Linked DNA regions of Homo sapiens. The main gene of each other region encodes a partner of the protein of the gene in region 2 in a complex. Each region holds a gene or a part of one and is shown on either strand. Other genes may lie near its edges. The genes, in order: F7 and F3. A codon is read from its position in the direction of its gene.

What was found.
Region 1: the proteins of F3 (region 2) and F7 are in contact, whole or in part, in a crystal structure (PDB 6R2W), measured with the Homo sapiens proteins. Residues at the interface, in NP_001984.1 of Homo sapiens: Thr49 (codon at 6,056), Asn50 (codon at 6,059), Lys52 (codon at 6,065), Ile54 (codon at 6,071), Glu56 (codon at 6,077), Trp77, Lys78, Ser79, Lys80, Phe82, Tyr83, Glu88, Asp90, Asp93, Gly141, Gln142, Thr144, Glu162, Arg163, Thr164, Leu165, Arg167, Phe172, Tyr188, Trp190, Lys191, Ser192, Ser194, Ser195, Gly196; in NP_000122.1 of Homo sapiens: Leu73, Lys78, Phe91, Arg96, Leu99, Phe100, Ser103, Ser120, Lys122, Gln124, Leu125, Ile129, Cys130, Phe131, Cys132, Leu133, Pro134, Phe136, Glu137, Gly138, Arg139, Lys145, Gln148, Ile150, Val152, Asn153, Glu154.

Annotation. Positions count from the first base shown.
Region 1 is NC_000013.11:113,100,914-113,108,852, reverse strand, and holds the start of F7 (coagulation factor VII isoform b precursor), read right to left. Parts: upstream 3,063-7,939; 5' UTR 3,057-3,062; coding exon of another isoform or gene 3,012-3,056; coding exon 2,948-3,011; intron 2,009-2,947; coding exon of another isoform or gene 1,943-2,008; intron 1-1,942. UniProt on the Homo sapiens protein: Initiates the extrinsic pathway of blood coagulation. Serine protease that circulates in the blood in a zymogen form. Factor VII is converted to factor VIIa by factor Xa, factor XIIa, factor IXa, or thrombin by minor proteolysis.
Region 2 is NC_000001.11:94,538,721-94,546,379, reverse strand, and holds the start of F3 (tissue factor isoform 1 precursor), read left to right. Parts: upstream 1-4,620; 5' UTR 4,621-4,743; coding exon 4,744-4,843; intron 4,844-6,011; coding exon 6,012-6,123; intron 6,124-7,659. UniProt on the Homo sapiens protein: Initiates blood coagulation by forming a complex with circulating factor VII or VIIa. The [TF:VIIa] complex activates factors IX or X by specific limited proteolysis.

The DNA.
Region 1 (7,939 bases), on a different chromosome or scaffold from region 2:
GGACACCCACTCCCCCGGGACACCCACACTCCCGGGACACCCACGCCCCCGGGACACCCACACCCCTGGGACACCCACACTCCCGGGACACCCTCGCCTCTGGAACACCCACACTCCCGGGACACCCACGACCCCCGGGACACCCACACCCCCGGGACACTCACACTTCTGGGATACCCTCGCCTCTGGAACACCCACACTCCCGGGACACCCACGCCCCCGGGACACCCACACTCCTGGGACACCCTCGCCTCCGGGACACCCACACTCCCGGGACACCCACTCCCCCGGGACACCCACACTCCCGGGACACCCACGCCCCCGGGACACCCACGCTCCCGGGACACCCTCGCCTCCGGGACACCCACGCTCCTGGGACACCCTCGCCTCCGGAACACCCACACTCCCGGGACACCCACTCCCCCGGGACACCCACACTCCCGGGACACCCACACCCCCGGGACACCCACACCCCCGGGACACCCACACTCCCGGGACACCCTCGCCTCCGGAACACCCACACTCCCGGGACACCCTCGCCTCCGGAACACCCACACTCCCGGGACACCCACAACCCCCGGGACACCCACGCCCCCGGGACACCCACACTCCCGGGACACCCTCGCCTCCGGAACACCCACACTCCCGGGACACCCTCGCCTCCGGAACACCCACACTCCCGGGACACCCACGCCCCTGGGACACCCACACTCCCGGGACACCCTCGCCTCCGGAACACCCACACTCCCGGGACACCCTCACCTCCGGAACACCCACACTCCCGGGACACCCACGCCCCCGGGACACCCACACTCCCGGGACACCCTCGCCTCCGGAACACCCACACTCCCGGGACACCCTCACCTCCGGAACACCCACACTCCCGGGACACCCACGCCCCCGGGACACCCACACCCCCGGGACACCCACGCCCCTGGGACACTCACACTTCTGGGATACCCTCGCCTCCGGAACACCCACGCCCCCGGGACACCCACGCCCCCGGGACACCCACGCCCCCGGGACACGCACACTCCCGGGACACCCTCGCCTCCGGAACACCCACACTCCCGGGACACCCACACTCCCGGGACACCCACGCCCCCGGGACACCCACACTCCCGGGACACCCACGCCCCCGGGACACCCACACTCCCGGGACACCCACGCCCCCGGGACACCCACGCTCCCGGGACACCCACGCCCCCGGGACACCCACACTCCCGGGACACCCTCGCCTCCGGGACACCCACACTCCCGGGACACCCACTCCCCCGGGACACCCACACTCCCGGGACACCCTCGCCTCCGGGACACCCACACTCCCGGGACACCCACTCCCCCGGGACACCCACACTCCCGGGACACCCACGCCCCCGGGACACCCACACTCCCGGGACACCCTCGCCTCCGGGACACCCACACTCCCGGGACACCCACTCCCCCGGGACACCCACACTCCCGGGACACCCTCGCCTCCGGGACACCCACACTCCCGGGACACCCACGCCCCCGGGACACCCACACTCCCGGGACACCCACGCCCCCGGGACACCCACACTCCTGGGACACCCACGCCCCCGGGACACCCACACTCCCGGGACACCCACACCCTTGGAGGCTGGTGTGAGCAGAGCCGGTGACCGCCCTGGGGTGAAAGCAGATTTGCATCAGAAAAGCTCTCAAGAACTGAGGAAAACCTGATGAAGAACACACGATTATCTGGAAGGAACAGAATGGAGCAAAGAAGATAAAATCGCCTGCACCCCAGTCCCAGGGAAGGCCAAGCTGGAGCGGTCACTTCCTCTCGAGCAGGGAACACCCTCCTTGGGGGGCACTGCAGTAGCCACCCCGCGGGCTGGCTCTTTGCCATGGGAGGGGAAGGAGGTGATGTTGGCCCCCACTGGGCCCCAGGACAAAACCAGTGGCAGTCCCTGCTCACCTCTGTGAGGCCCCGGCTTCCACGGCATGTCCCGTGTTTCTCCTCCTGAGGCCTTAGCGACCCCGCCTGGGGCAGGAAGGTGGCCGGGGTCATAAGGCCATGCTGTGAGCTAGGGCTGCAGCCCCACATCCCAGGCACTGTCCCTCACAGCCCACCCCCCACTCGCCATCCCCACACGCCATCCCCACGCCCCACTAGCCATCCTCACGCCACACCCCCTACTCGCCATCCCCATGCCCCACTCACCATTCCCAGGCCCCAGCCCCACTCGCCATCCCCACCCCCCCATGCCCCATCCTCTGCACCCCACACGCCCTTTCCATGCCCCATCCCCCACACCCCACATGCCCCATCCCCGACACCCCACACACCCCATCCCCCACACCTCCATGCCCCATCCCCTGCACCCCACACGCCCTTTCCATGCCCCATCCCCCACACCCCACACACTTTCCCACACCTCACCCCCACACCCCATGCCCCACATGCTGTTTCCCAGGCCCCACCCCCCCACGGCCCATCCCCCACACCCCACACGCCATCCCCACCCCCGATCCTCCACACCCCATCCCCTACGCCCCACATGCCGTTTCCCACACCCCATCCCCCATGCCCCAGGCGCCATCCCCCACGCACCGTCCCCTACCTGTGCTCCCCAGCCTGGGAGCACCCTGTGCGCACTTCCTGCACTCTGAGAGGCCCCAGACTCCCTGCGCTTGTCCGACCTCACAGGCAGGGGCCCATGGGGGCCAGGAAAGCACCACCCACTCCTAAAGTTCTTTGAAAAATAATCCCGCCAAAGCCTGGGCCACCAAGAAGGGCCTCCCCTCCTGTGCCTGGATGCTGGTTTCTAGAAGGAAAGAAATTGAACAGGAGCCGCCAGAAAACCCTCCTGGTGGATGGGGGTGTCCGGAGCAAGGGCGGGGTTTGGGAAGCCCGGGCTGGCTCCTGGATTTGCCCACTGCCCTTCCACCAAGTTTATGGAGAAAACCTCCCCGGACGCACCTGCAGCCAGGCAGCCCTGAAGCCCAAGCAGAAGGCAGAGGAGCCTGAGGGCCTGGGAGACCATGATGAAATCTCTGCAGTGCTGCCCCTGCCTGTTGACATTCCCCATGGGACTGACGGGCAAAGTTCTCTGCCTCCAAGGGTGACAGAGGGATGGGGGAGGGGAGGACACAGGCGTCCTCTGAACACCCCAGCTGAGAGCTGCACCTGGCCGGCCAGTGGCCATGCATCCCCTGCTGCCCAGCCACTGAGCTCAAGTGGGGGGGACAGGAGAAAGGTCAGGTGACCCCAGCTGTGCTGCAGAGCGGACGGTTTTGTTGCCAGCGTGCAGGTGTTAAGGTGTGTGTGGCACCAACACTTCAAATACGATCTAGAATTCCAAACCCCTAATGTAAGTTGGGAAACAGATTTAAACTGCAGATGAAAACTTGTCCCATAGCAATCATGCGAGTCAAATCTCAAGACTGTATCTTGGGTGTGGATGTAAATATTTGAAGAGAGCCTCCAGACCAGGCCAGCTAGGCCGTTGCCTGCAAGGGAGGCTGGTTTCTTAGGTGAGCCACAGAGCCTCACTGAGAAGTGCCGGGAATAGGATCATTCTGGCCCTGAGCTGGGCACCCCCACTCCGTTTTGACTGCAGGCAGCACCCCCATTCTCCAGCGGTCCACATCTTACGTCTTTTTGTTTGTTTTGTTTTGTTTGTTTGAGACAGAGTCTTGCTCTGTTGCCAGGCTGGAGAGTGCACTGGTGCAATCTCACTGCAACCTCCACCTCCCGGGTTCAAGTGATTCTTGTGCCTCAGCCTCCTGAGTAGCTGGGACCACAGGTGCACGTCACCATGCCTGGCTAATTTATATATATATATTTTTTTTTTTTAGCAGAGATGGGGTTTCACCGTGTTGACCAGGCTGGTTTCGAACTCCTGACCTCAAGTGATCCACATGCCTCAGCCTCCCAAAGTGCTGGGATTACAGGCGTGAGCCACTGTGCCCGGCTGGCGGCAGTCCACGTCATTTCTACCTGCTGTCATGGGCCCAAGCCACAAGCTGTGGTGACTAACCACCCCAGGTTGCCCAGGGACTGAGGGTTCTCAGAATGTGGAACTTTCCATCCCAAAAACACTGGGGTAGACGGTCATCCAAGCCTCCTGGGTTGCCCAGCAGGCCTGTCTGACCCCTCAAGCAGGGAGTATCCTCCATGTGAACAGTTGCATTGCTGATGACTTCTTTGGAAGCTGATGTCCAGTTCTTTTTACGGCTGGAGGGAGGGAGGTGATTCCTTCCCAACAGCCAAGTCTTAGCTCAGGGGTGCCTTTCAAAGCAGCCCCCAGCACCCCCAAAGCCTCCCTGCTTGCTGCTGACCTGCATCTCAGTCCAGAGAGCAGAGCACTTGCTGAGGGGCCGACAGGGCATGTTTTCTCTTCCACCCAGCACAGCTGAAGCCCATCTGTGCCCCTCCATGATATCGATCCCAGGGAGATCGCTTACAAAGTAGCTGCTCCGTCTGGAATAAAGCTCACGTCCAGCTCAAATCTGGTCCCCGCGGCTCTCGGCCAGCACAGCCCAAGGTAATTTCAGGACGTGGAGGGGAGGGGGCCATATCTAAACCCTACCCCTTTCCCACCTGAGAGTAGATGGCTGGCTGGTCTTAGGGTACCCTTCCCCTTTGGGGCTCCAGGTCAGAGGTCCTCAACCCTCTCTGGGCAGCAGAATGACCTGGGGAACCTCAAGCGCCAAAACCCCCTGAGAGATTCAGTGGCTCATGGCCTCGGGGCTGGTGAAGCTCTTCAGGTGATGGACCCTCACCTGCATGCAGCCCTCTCTGTGCGGGCAGGCGGGAGGGGGCAGGAACCGGGCTATCTGGCTGGGCTCTCTGCCCGTCTCACTGCTGGCCAGGGCGGCTGCAGGTGCCCGCCTATGGCCATTGTCCTGGTGTGGGTCCTTGAGGACACAGGTGTGAGGGGCTCCACCTGGCCCCGGGGACCCGCTCCATACCTCCCTGAGGGGGACCTGCCTGCTGGTCTCCCTCCCACGTCTGTCCCAGGGGCATGCCTGGAACCTTGCCTGGGGCTGGACCCGGCCACACGGAGTAGCAGGTGTGGGGGCTGCTGCACCATCCCTCTCACAAAACCCCACTTCCTCCCTTCAGGGAGGCTAACCAGGCTCTCCCAGGACTCCCGGGACCTCCTCTGGGGCCTCCTTGGACATGCTGTGGCCCTGTCACTAGGATGGGAGGGTCCTTCAGCCCCTACCCTGGGGAAGGGCACGGTCACAGCTCTGTTCCCAGGCCAGGCCTCCCTCTCTCCTGTGGCAGCCTCTGTTGATCCACCCATCCACTCATTCCCGCCTGCAAGAAGGGCTGGGCCCCTCCGCCTCACAGTCACTCTTGAGTGTGGAGGACACAGGAAAACTTTGGTTGTCATCTCAAGGCAAGTTGCTTGTTTGGGGGCTACAGAAACCACGTCAGCACCTTGTTCATCTGCAGCCATCCCTGACTGTGGTGGTGGGCACACGTGAGCTGTCCAGGGAGTGTGTGAGTCAGATGTCTGTGACATCAGAATCTCTTGGGTGGTGGCTCATGCCTGTAATCCCAGCACTTTGGGAGGCTGAGGACTGAGGATCGCTTGAGGAAAGGAGTTCCAGACCAACCTGGGCAACATAGCAAGACCAAAGCTAGACAAAAAATAAAAAAATTAGCTGGGCTTGGTGGTTCATGCCTGTGGTCCCAGAGACAGAGAACCCGGGAGGCAGAGGTTGCAATGAGCTGAGATTGTGCCACTGCACTCAAGCCTGGGCGACAGAGGGAGACCCTGACTCCTTCCCTACCAAAGAATCTCCATGCTCACACTCGTACATGAGAACCACGCTCGCACAACCCAAACTCACGCCATACACATACCACACTCACACACACCGTACACATGCCACACTCATACCCCAAAGTCACACCACATAAACACACCCCTATACACATGCCACACACCTACACACACGTGATTTCCAGGCTCTTCCACACCCATAAGGAATTGGAATCTACGGGCAGGTCCCGGGAATAGTATTGAACAAACATCCAGGGAAACTGCTATGTGTTCTCGTTTTGGGAACCAGTGAGCACATCCCACCTGGTGCCAAATGCATCTCGGCAGGACGCATGTATGCCAGGGAAACAGGCAGCCACTAACAGGATTTGAGCTTGGGCACCAATTGGTTCCAAATCCTATTTGGTGCAATCCTAGAAGCAAGGGTTTCCTTGTGACGGAGGGTGCAGGGCATGGGAGGACAGAGGAGCTGCGTGCACGGATGCCTGTGTGCCCTGTGCCTGCAAAGCCGCCACAGCAAGCTGTCTTGCAGGCCAGTTCCAATGGCTGACAGTGTGTGCACTGGCGAGGAAAAGCCTGTGCTAAGCGGAACTCTGCTGTCTGTGCAGAGAAGGGAGCTGGGCCTGGGCACCACTGTCAGCCAGTAGAGCACGGGGCTGCTCCCTCCACCCCACCCGGGTGCTTTGCCTTCTTGGGGCCACAGCTGGAGGCAGCTGAGCCCTCGGGCCTGCCGGGTGTCACACCAGTGCTGTAGGATGCTAACTTTCAGTTTAAGAGAGAGAATGTATGCAAGGTTGAACAGTTATGATTTTGAGCAGAATTTTTCTTCTCTGGGCCTTGGTCCTGCTTTTCACCCTTGTCTGGGGTCTTAGCGTGGAGAGAAATTCACCATGGGATGTGCTCAGATTGTCCATCTTATCTTTTTGTCCATCTCTTAAAGTGTAGCTTGTCTTTTGTAAGAAATCTATCCTTGCCCTAGGCAATAAGAATATTCTGTTTCCTCATAATAATGTTTTAATCTTAAGTTTGGGGGGGCTATACTTTTATGCCATCATCCACATGGAAAGGCAGCTGTCCCAATAACACCCGTTCCTGAAGAGGCCATTCCGTGCCAAAGATTGACCAGCCCCAGGACAAGCCAGGTCCCTGCACACATCCCTGCCTGGGAATCTGAATTCTGCTCGACCAGTTTAGCCTCTCTCCCCCTTGTCACGACTGATGACAGGTTTATGATCTATCCAGATGCCTGGTAGGTGAGCCCTCCTCCTCCTGCCTCTGCTCCCCGAATCACCACGGCTATACTCAGACCTTTATCTTCTATGTTTATTACAATCAACTTCCTAATTCCACAAAGAATTCTGTTGGAATTTTGATGAAATACACAGATTAACTTGGGGGAGAGTTAACACTTTGGTGATACTGAATTGTCCCATCCATAAAAATCTCCCATTTAGGCCTTCTTTTATGACCTTCTATCATGTTTCATAATTTTGTCCAAAACTTTTGTTACATTTATTTTAGTATTTAGGTTGCTGTTAAAATAGTATTGTTATTGCTAGGAATGTTAATAACTTTTTGTGGGTTGATCTTGTGGACTTCTTAGTTTCAATAGTTTATGAATTCACCTGGTTTTTCTAGATATGAAAAGTTATTTTTCAATTAGCATGCCTTGGTTCCTTTTTCTTTTTTTCTTTTTTTGAGATGGAGTTTCACTCTTGTTGCCCAGGCTGGAGTGCAATGGCGACATCTCGGCTCACGGCAACCTCTGCCTCCTGGGATCAGGCGATTCTCCCGTCTCAGCCTCCCGAGTAGCTGGGATTACAGGCATGCACCACCACGCCCGGCTAATTTTGTATTTTTAATAGAGACGGGGTTTCACCGTGTTAGCCAGGATGGTCTCGATCTCCTGACCTCGTGATCTGCCGCCTCGGCCTCCCAAAGTGCTGGGATGACAGGCCTGAGCCGCCGCGCTGGCCTTGTTTCCTTTTCCTTTGCGGTGGTAGTCACTAGTACTGCGGCTAAATGGCGCTGGAGAGTAGTGGGGCCCCGTTCAGTTCTGCTGCCAATGGGGATGGTTCTAAAGGATTTCAGTACTTAAAATTTTTGCTGCAGCCGGGCGCGGTGGCTCACGCCTGTAATCCCAGCACTTTGGGAGGCTGAGGTGGGAGATCACG
Region 2 (7,659 bases):
CAATTCAAATGCTGACAGAAAATCATTCAAACCATAAAATCTGCCGGGCATGGTGGTTCACACCTGTAATCCCGGCACTTTGGGGGGCAGAGGCAGGCGGATCACCTGAGGTCGGGAGTTTGAGACCAGCCTGACCAACATAGATAAACCTGTATGTACTAAAAATACAAAATTAGCTGGGCATGGTGGCACATGCCTGTAATCCCAGTTACTCAGGAGGCTGAGGCAGGAGAATTGCTTTGAACCTGGGAGGTGGAGTTGCAGTGAGCCGAGATTGTGCCATTGCACTCCAGCCTGGGGCAACAAGAGCGAAACTCTGTCTCAAAAAACAAACAAACAAACATAAAATCTGGACATAAGTAGGAATGATGATATGTTTAACAGGAAAGGGACTTCTTTGTTTTACTCTGTACATCCAGAGTCTAGCAAAGAACCCAGTATCTGGTGGACATTCAAGCATTTGTTGAATGAATGAATTTCTGTTCATCAAATTTAGTACATATGTCAGGTATAAAGAGTTACAGAAATGAGGAATTAAGAGATGCTTAAGTAAATGATACCATATACAAAATTTTAAATCACATAAATATTATATTAATAAGAACATAGGTTAAGGGTTTTCATTTTAAATGACTTTTTGTTACTAAAATAATACCCACAATTCATATTTATTATTTATCTATTTTGTCACCATTGTATGTAGATAATAAAATAATATTTACTGTTCATCAAAATGAAAGTTGAAAGGTAGTTTGATAAGCTTTACGTTTATAAAAATAGATGTCTGCTGAAAATACCAATCCCAGTCTAAGACTTGAATTGGAAGGTTTTTCTCTAAAGTTACATTTTTCAGAATACTGGTGCTATGTGATAACTCATTTAGCAAAGCTTCTTGTAAGCTGTTCTAGACAGTTGATAGAAGTATTTTGAATGACCAGGATAATAGATTTTATCATACTGACTTTCAACTGTTTAATTTTGGTCTAAATGAACTGTTGGACTAGTATATTGCTATTTTCACAAAATGCATAATCATGACTGCCAATTTTTCCATGACTAACTATACCCAGCCAGATGTTTCTTAGGTTCTGCTGAGTCACTTTTTTCCTTTTCCTCCAGAACTCTGTGTTCCTACTAACTCCTAATTCCCTCTGGCCTTTTCTCATACTTTGCCTTTTACCTGAATTTTGGGTAATGGTTTCATTGCTCTTTTTACCATTTCATATGCATAAAATAAGTTTCTCTGAATTATTCTCAATTTTACTTGCTATCATGTATCTTAACCTATCTCTTTCCTGGGAAATAAACATTTTGAGGAATTTGTTTTAAAAAGTTATTCAGCCTCTGTATGCAAGGAAAACTATCAACAACCTCATCGCATGATGAAGTATATTCTGAATCATCGTAGAATCCAGTCTTTTAAAAAAATGCTAGCTAGTTTCCAAACTTCTGTATCTGGTTTCTGCTTCTCAGCTATCTCTCCTCCTGGTGAGATTTTCTGGTGGTGCAGAGATAGCTAATCACTGGTTAGACTGCTAGAACTTGCGGTCGAGTGGTGCCTTTCCAGTCATGATGGATTTGTATTTTCTTACCAATCTCAGCATCATGAAACACTCACTGCCTGGCCCCTAGAAAGAGTTTTCAGTGACAGATTTCATCTCTTGAACACCAGTGAAATATTTGGTTGCACTCATAGTTTTATAAAGTATTCATTGACTCAAAAGGTATTAAGTGCCTATTATGTGCTGATAATTGTGGAAAGGGTTGAGAGAGGAAAAAAACAGACAAAAAACCCAATCCAACAGGAAAGATTAACAGGTAAACACACAAGTGAGATTAAGTGAAGTTCTCAATGAAAATGAGTCGGTAAAATTGGCAGCAAGTACTATAAAAGTACAGTGGAAGGGCTGAAACATCTCCGCAGTTATTTTCAGACTTCTCATCAACCACATTTCATCACTGGTTATGCAAAGGGAATTCAAACTCTTCTACGTGTCTCCTTGTCTGTCTATTTCAAGGACTAACCATCAGGATATTTCTGCCTAAGAACAATGAGTTCCCCAAACTGCAAAGTATTTTCTATACTTTGTGTGCAGTTTTTGTGCAGTTTTGCACTTTTCTGCACTTTGTGTACATGCAGAACATTTTTGAGTGCTTATGGATGGATTAATTAATCATTCATTTGATGGATTTACCACCCAGTCTTACTTTCCTTCATTGGGAGTAGGAGAAAGCCTGGTGATGGAAGGAAAGCCCCCGGGGTCAGAAGACCAGATCTGCACTGTGTGGTTAGGCAAGCCAGTTTACTCAGATCAGCTGGCCACAGGGTTCTCATCCATAAAAGAATGTCTGTGAGGTTCTCCCATCCTCTGACATCCTAAAATCCAATGAGAAAGGGACTGGTCAAGCCAGAGAGATTATTGTTATAGTTTAGTAACTTTTTGAACTTCTCAGAGCCTCCAAGATAGATCATGGAGGAGGGAACTGTTAACTGCTAAGCTTGACTTTACTGACAGGAGTAAAAAAAATTGTGTTAAGGTTAGGGAATAATTTTAACAGTCAATTTGTTCTTGTGAACAAATTTCAACAGTGAAATTTTAGATATGTACTTTTTAATGGTGCCAAGCAGCAGTTATTATAGATCAACTGCTGTTTGGCACCATTAAAAAGTACACTTCGCACCGTCAAAAAGTAGATCTGGCCACAATTAGATCAGTCAGGGAAAAACACTTCGCAATGAAATATTATTTACCACGTTTTCTTCCTCCCTCTTCTTGAAAATAGTAATGATTTTAGCATTTTTAAATCTTGAAGAATGTCATTCCGTACTGACTAAAAAGCCTGTGCAAACACCCAACATCTTCTCTTTCCTGTCTATTTTAATGGATATACAAAATAAATATTCATCTAATTTATCAATATTTAAGGCACATTGTGTATCACAATCCAATGGTAAACATTTTTCTTATCAAATGGCTGATCTTGACATTGTTTAAAGCCCTATATGATTTCAGAAAAGTCAGTGACTCCAAGTGGAATTGCAACAATTTCTTGGGTCTTGTAACAAACCTGAAGTGTAACTATTTCTCTTCAGCTACCTTCAATCCCAGAGAGCAAAGAATCACATCCCAGGTGGAGCTGAAGATCTCTTAGGGAAAATGACTCAGGCTAGAGCCTGCATAAAAAGAGGATTGCATGGCTTAGTTTTGCAAACATAAATTTTGTGGGTTTCAGAGCTGGCAGAGAGCTCAAAGAGGAAATCATCAAGGGCAACTTTCTGCTTCGAGGAAGGAAAGTCTACAAGGGCTAAACCTGGATGTGCTATTTCAGTTCAGGCAAAGGAGGAAAATTAAAATTTTGCACAGTTTTATTCTGTTAAAACAAGTGGTTCAGTAAGCTAAACGAGATATGTATATAGTATGCATTAAAATGCAAGACTGACTTCCCTGGGAAAACGTGGGAAAGAAGGAGAGAGGAAACAAACAATTCTTACACTAAGAATTCTCCAGTCGTGTCTTGCAGGCAATATAGAGTAATAATAATAAAAATGACAGGAGATACTTTGACAGGATGGCTTAAAATGCCACTCAATAGATGAAGAGTTGTTCTCATGCTTGGCAAGTTTACAGCAAAGCCCAGAAGGAGAAGCCAGAAAATAATTTAGAAAAACCAAAGCTTAAAACTAGTGGCACACAACTCTGGTTACATTTTTCATTTTCATTTTTGGTTCCTCTGCATTTCGGTGGAACTCAGTCCCACAGATGTCTTCTTCAATGTGGGAACCATCCTTTCTGGAACCACAGAGCTGCAGATGTCACGCTGGAATTCTCCCAGAGGCAAACTGCCAGATGTGAGGCTGCTCTTCCTCAGTCACTATCTCTGGTCGTACCGGGCGATGCCTGAGCCAACTGACCCTCAGACCTGTGAGCCGAGCCGGTCACACCGTGGCTGACACCGGCATTCCCACCGCCTTTCTCCTGTGCGACCCGCTAAGGGCCCCGCGAGGTGGGCAGGCCAGGTATTCTTGACCTTCGTGGGGTAGAAGAAGCCACCGTGGCTGGGAGAGGGCCCTGCTCACAGCCACACGTTTACTTCGCTGCAGGTCCCGAGCTTCTGCCCCAGGTGGGCAAAGCATCCGGGAAATGCCCTCCGCTGCCCGAGGGGAGCCCAGAGCCCGTGCTTTCTATTAAATGTTGTAAATGCCGCCTCTCCCACTTTATCACCAAATGGAAGGGAAGAATTCTTCCAAGGCGCCCTCCCTTTCCTGCCATAGACCTGCAACCCACCTAAGCTGCACGTCGGAGTCGCGGGCCTGGGTGAATCCGGGGGCCTTGGGGGACCCGGGCAACTAGACCCGCCTGCGTCCTCCAGGGCAGCTCCGCGCTCGGTGGCGCGGTTGAATCACTGGGGTGAGTCATCCCTTGCAGGGTCCCGGAGTTTCCTACCGGGAGGAGGCGGGGCAGGGGTGTGGACTCGCCGGGGGCCGCCCACCGCGACGGCAAGTGACCCGGGCCGGGGGCGGGGAGTCGGGAGGAGCGGCGGGGGCGGGCGCCGGGGGCGGGCAGAGGCGCGGGAGAGCGCGCCGCCGGCCCTTTATAGCGCGCGGGGCACCGGCTCCCCAAGACTGCGAGCTCCCCGCACCCCCTCGCACTCCCTCTGGCCGGCCCAGGGCGCCTTCAGCCCAACCTCCCCAGCCCCACGGGCGCCACGGAACCCGCTCGATCTCGCCGCCAACTGGTAGACATGGAGACCCCTGCCTGGCCCCGGGTCCCGCGCCCCGAGACCGCCGTCGCTCGGACGCTCCTGCTCGGCTGGGTCTTCGCCCAGGTGGCCGGCGCTTCAGGTGAGTGGCACCAGCCCCTGGAAGCCCGGGGCGCGCCACACGCAGGAGGGAGGCGACAGTCCTGGCTGGCAGCGGGCTCGCCCTGGTTCCCCGGGGCGCCCATGTTGTCCCCCGCGCCTACGGGACTCGGCTGCGCTCACCCAGCCCGGCTTGAATGAACCGAGTCCGTCGGGCGCCGGCGGGAGTTGCAGGGAGGGAGTTGGCGCCCCAGACCCCGCTGCCCCTTCCGCTGGAGAGTTTTGCTCGGGGTGTCCGAGTAATTGGACTGTTGTTGCATAAGCGGACTTTTAGCTCCCGCTTTAACTCTGGGGAAAGGGCTTCCCAGTGAGTTGCGACCTTCAATATGATAGGACTTGTGCCTGCGTCTGCACGTGTTGGCGTGCAGAGGTTTGGATATTATCTTTCATTATATGTGCATCTTCCCTTAATAAAGAGCGTCCCTGGTCTTTTCCTGGCCATCTTTGTTCTAGGTTTGGGTAGAGGCAATCCAAAAGGGCTGGATTGCTGCTTAGATTGGAGCAGGTACAACGTTGTGCATGCCCCGTATTTCTACGAGGTGTTCGGGACGGCGTAGAGACTGGGACCTGCTGCGTACTGGCAAAGCAGACCTTCATAAGAAATAATCCTGATCCAATACAGCCGACGGTGTGACAGGCCACACGTCCCCGTGGGTCTCTGTGGAAGTTTCAGTGTAGCGACATTTCAGATAAAAGTGGAAAAAGTGAAGTTTGGCTTTTTTCATTTGTATGCAGTCCTAACTCTTGTCACACGTGTGGGATTTATCTTTTTCCATAACTTACTGAAAACCCTTCCTGGCGGGCTGAACCTGACTCTTCCTGAGCTGAGTCCTGGACTGGCACACTGATGGCTCTGGGCTCTTCCCGGTCAAGTTATAACAAGGCTTTGCCCATGAATAATTTCAAACGAAAATGTCAAGATCCTTGCCGGTGTCCTGGGATTACAAGGTGAATCTTGTCATGAAGAAATTCTAGGTCTAGAAAAAATTTGAAGATTCTTTTTCTCTTGATAATTCACTAATGAAGCTTTTGTGGTTGAAAAATAAAAAGTGAGGTTTATGGTGATGTCAGGTGGGAAGGTGTTTTATACATCAATACATTCGAGTGCTCTGAAGTGCATGTAATAATAGCTGTTTCTCTGTTGTTTAAAGGCACTACAAATACTGTGGCAGCATATAATTTAACTTGGAAATCAACTAATTTCAAGACAATTTTGGAGTGGGAACCCAAACCCGTCAATCAAGTCTACACTGTTCAAATAAGGTAAGCTGGGTACAGAAAAAGAAAATTAAGGTCTTTGATGTTTCTACTGTCCTATGCTGAACAAGAATGTCTTTAAAGCTGATTACTGGATGAAATTATTTAACAGATGACGAAGAAGAAGGGATTCTTGGCAATTCGCTGGCCGGTGTCATACTCTATTAGGCCTGCAACATTTCCAGACCTTAAACTGATAGAACATTTTAATTGTTTTAATTGTTTTTGGAAATGATGGGAGAGTTCCTAAGTGGAGTATAAACTGTGGAGAGATGAACCATCTTGAGTAGGCACTGAAGTGTGCTTTGGGTCATGATAGATTAATTAATCTCATCTAAACATTGATGTCTTTTTCTGTTGCTGTCTAGACTGTGAACAATGTCTAACACCTTAGGGAAGAGGTGGGGAGGAATCCCAATGTATACATTGCCCTTAAGCAGTGTTTGATTCATTCATCTTTGGACTCCATGAATCGAAATCTGGTAGAATACATGATCTTAGTGGAGGAGGCCAAATGCGTGACTCACTGAGCCTGGCAGAGCAGAAATACTCTGCTGTCTGCACCCTCTGGGTCTGGTGTGGCTCTGCTTCTTGGTGCCTCAACTCTGACTGGCAGCTGTCCCCAGGAGGCGATAATTCAGCATGTTCAATCTAAAGGTTATGACTTCCTTGATGGTTTTCACCATATTCTTGGCAAGTTTTTGGTTTTTGAAATGTTCTAGGAGGCTTGGTAGAGATCTTATGAAATAGAGAATAGCTGCTGTGGAAATTATTTTAATGCTAATTACATAAAAGTACAAAAGTAGCACTAGCTAAAACAAAAGGTATTTTGCTGTTCTGTTTTGTTTTAGCTTGTGCCAGGCCTTTTACAGCATTAGGAATGCAACTTCTAGATAACGATGCATCTTTTAAGTGAATGTTCTTGTTTTTCAAAATGAACTTCATGACAGTAGTTGCCAAACCAGCAAGGAGAACTTGCATGCATACGTGCATGCATGTGTGGATATGTATGGGGGTGGGGGGAGAGAAAGATGAAGGAATTTCATAACATGAAATAATGATTACAGTTCTGGTCAAACTTGTCAATTCAGATTTCACCAATTGAGAATTAGTAAGTAATTTCTCTGATACAGGCCTGAAGTTTACCTTAGTAAACACTTTACTTCCATATGGTAAAAATTAGATTTTGGGAGGAATGCTTACCTCCTAAATATATTCAATCTAATATTTGAGGGACACATGGGAATATATTTATGATTCATCTGCTTTTTAAACATAAGCCTTTGTTAACTGTAAGTTCTTGAACTTTATAAGGCTGCTGTTATTTAAATGAGCACAGCTCCTGATCTGCAAACAGCAGAGCGCAGGGCTACAGCTTGGGGGATGCCAGCCGACTCAGGGTGGTCCTATGGACTGAACAATCTCTTGCTGCTGTACTGGAGGGCCTGGGAGCTTTTCCATCAGCCTCGGCCTGAGGTGTGCACTCTTCTCCTGCCCACCCCAGGAATAAATGAGATTCCTGGTTAAAAAGGACCAGAGCAG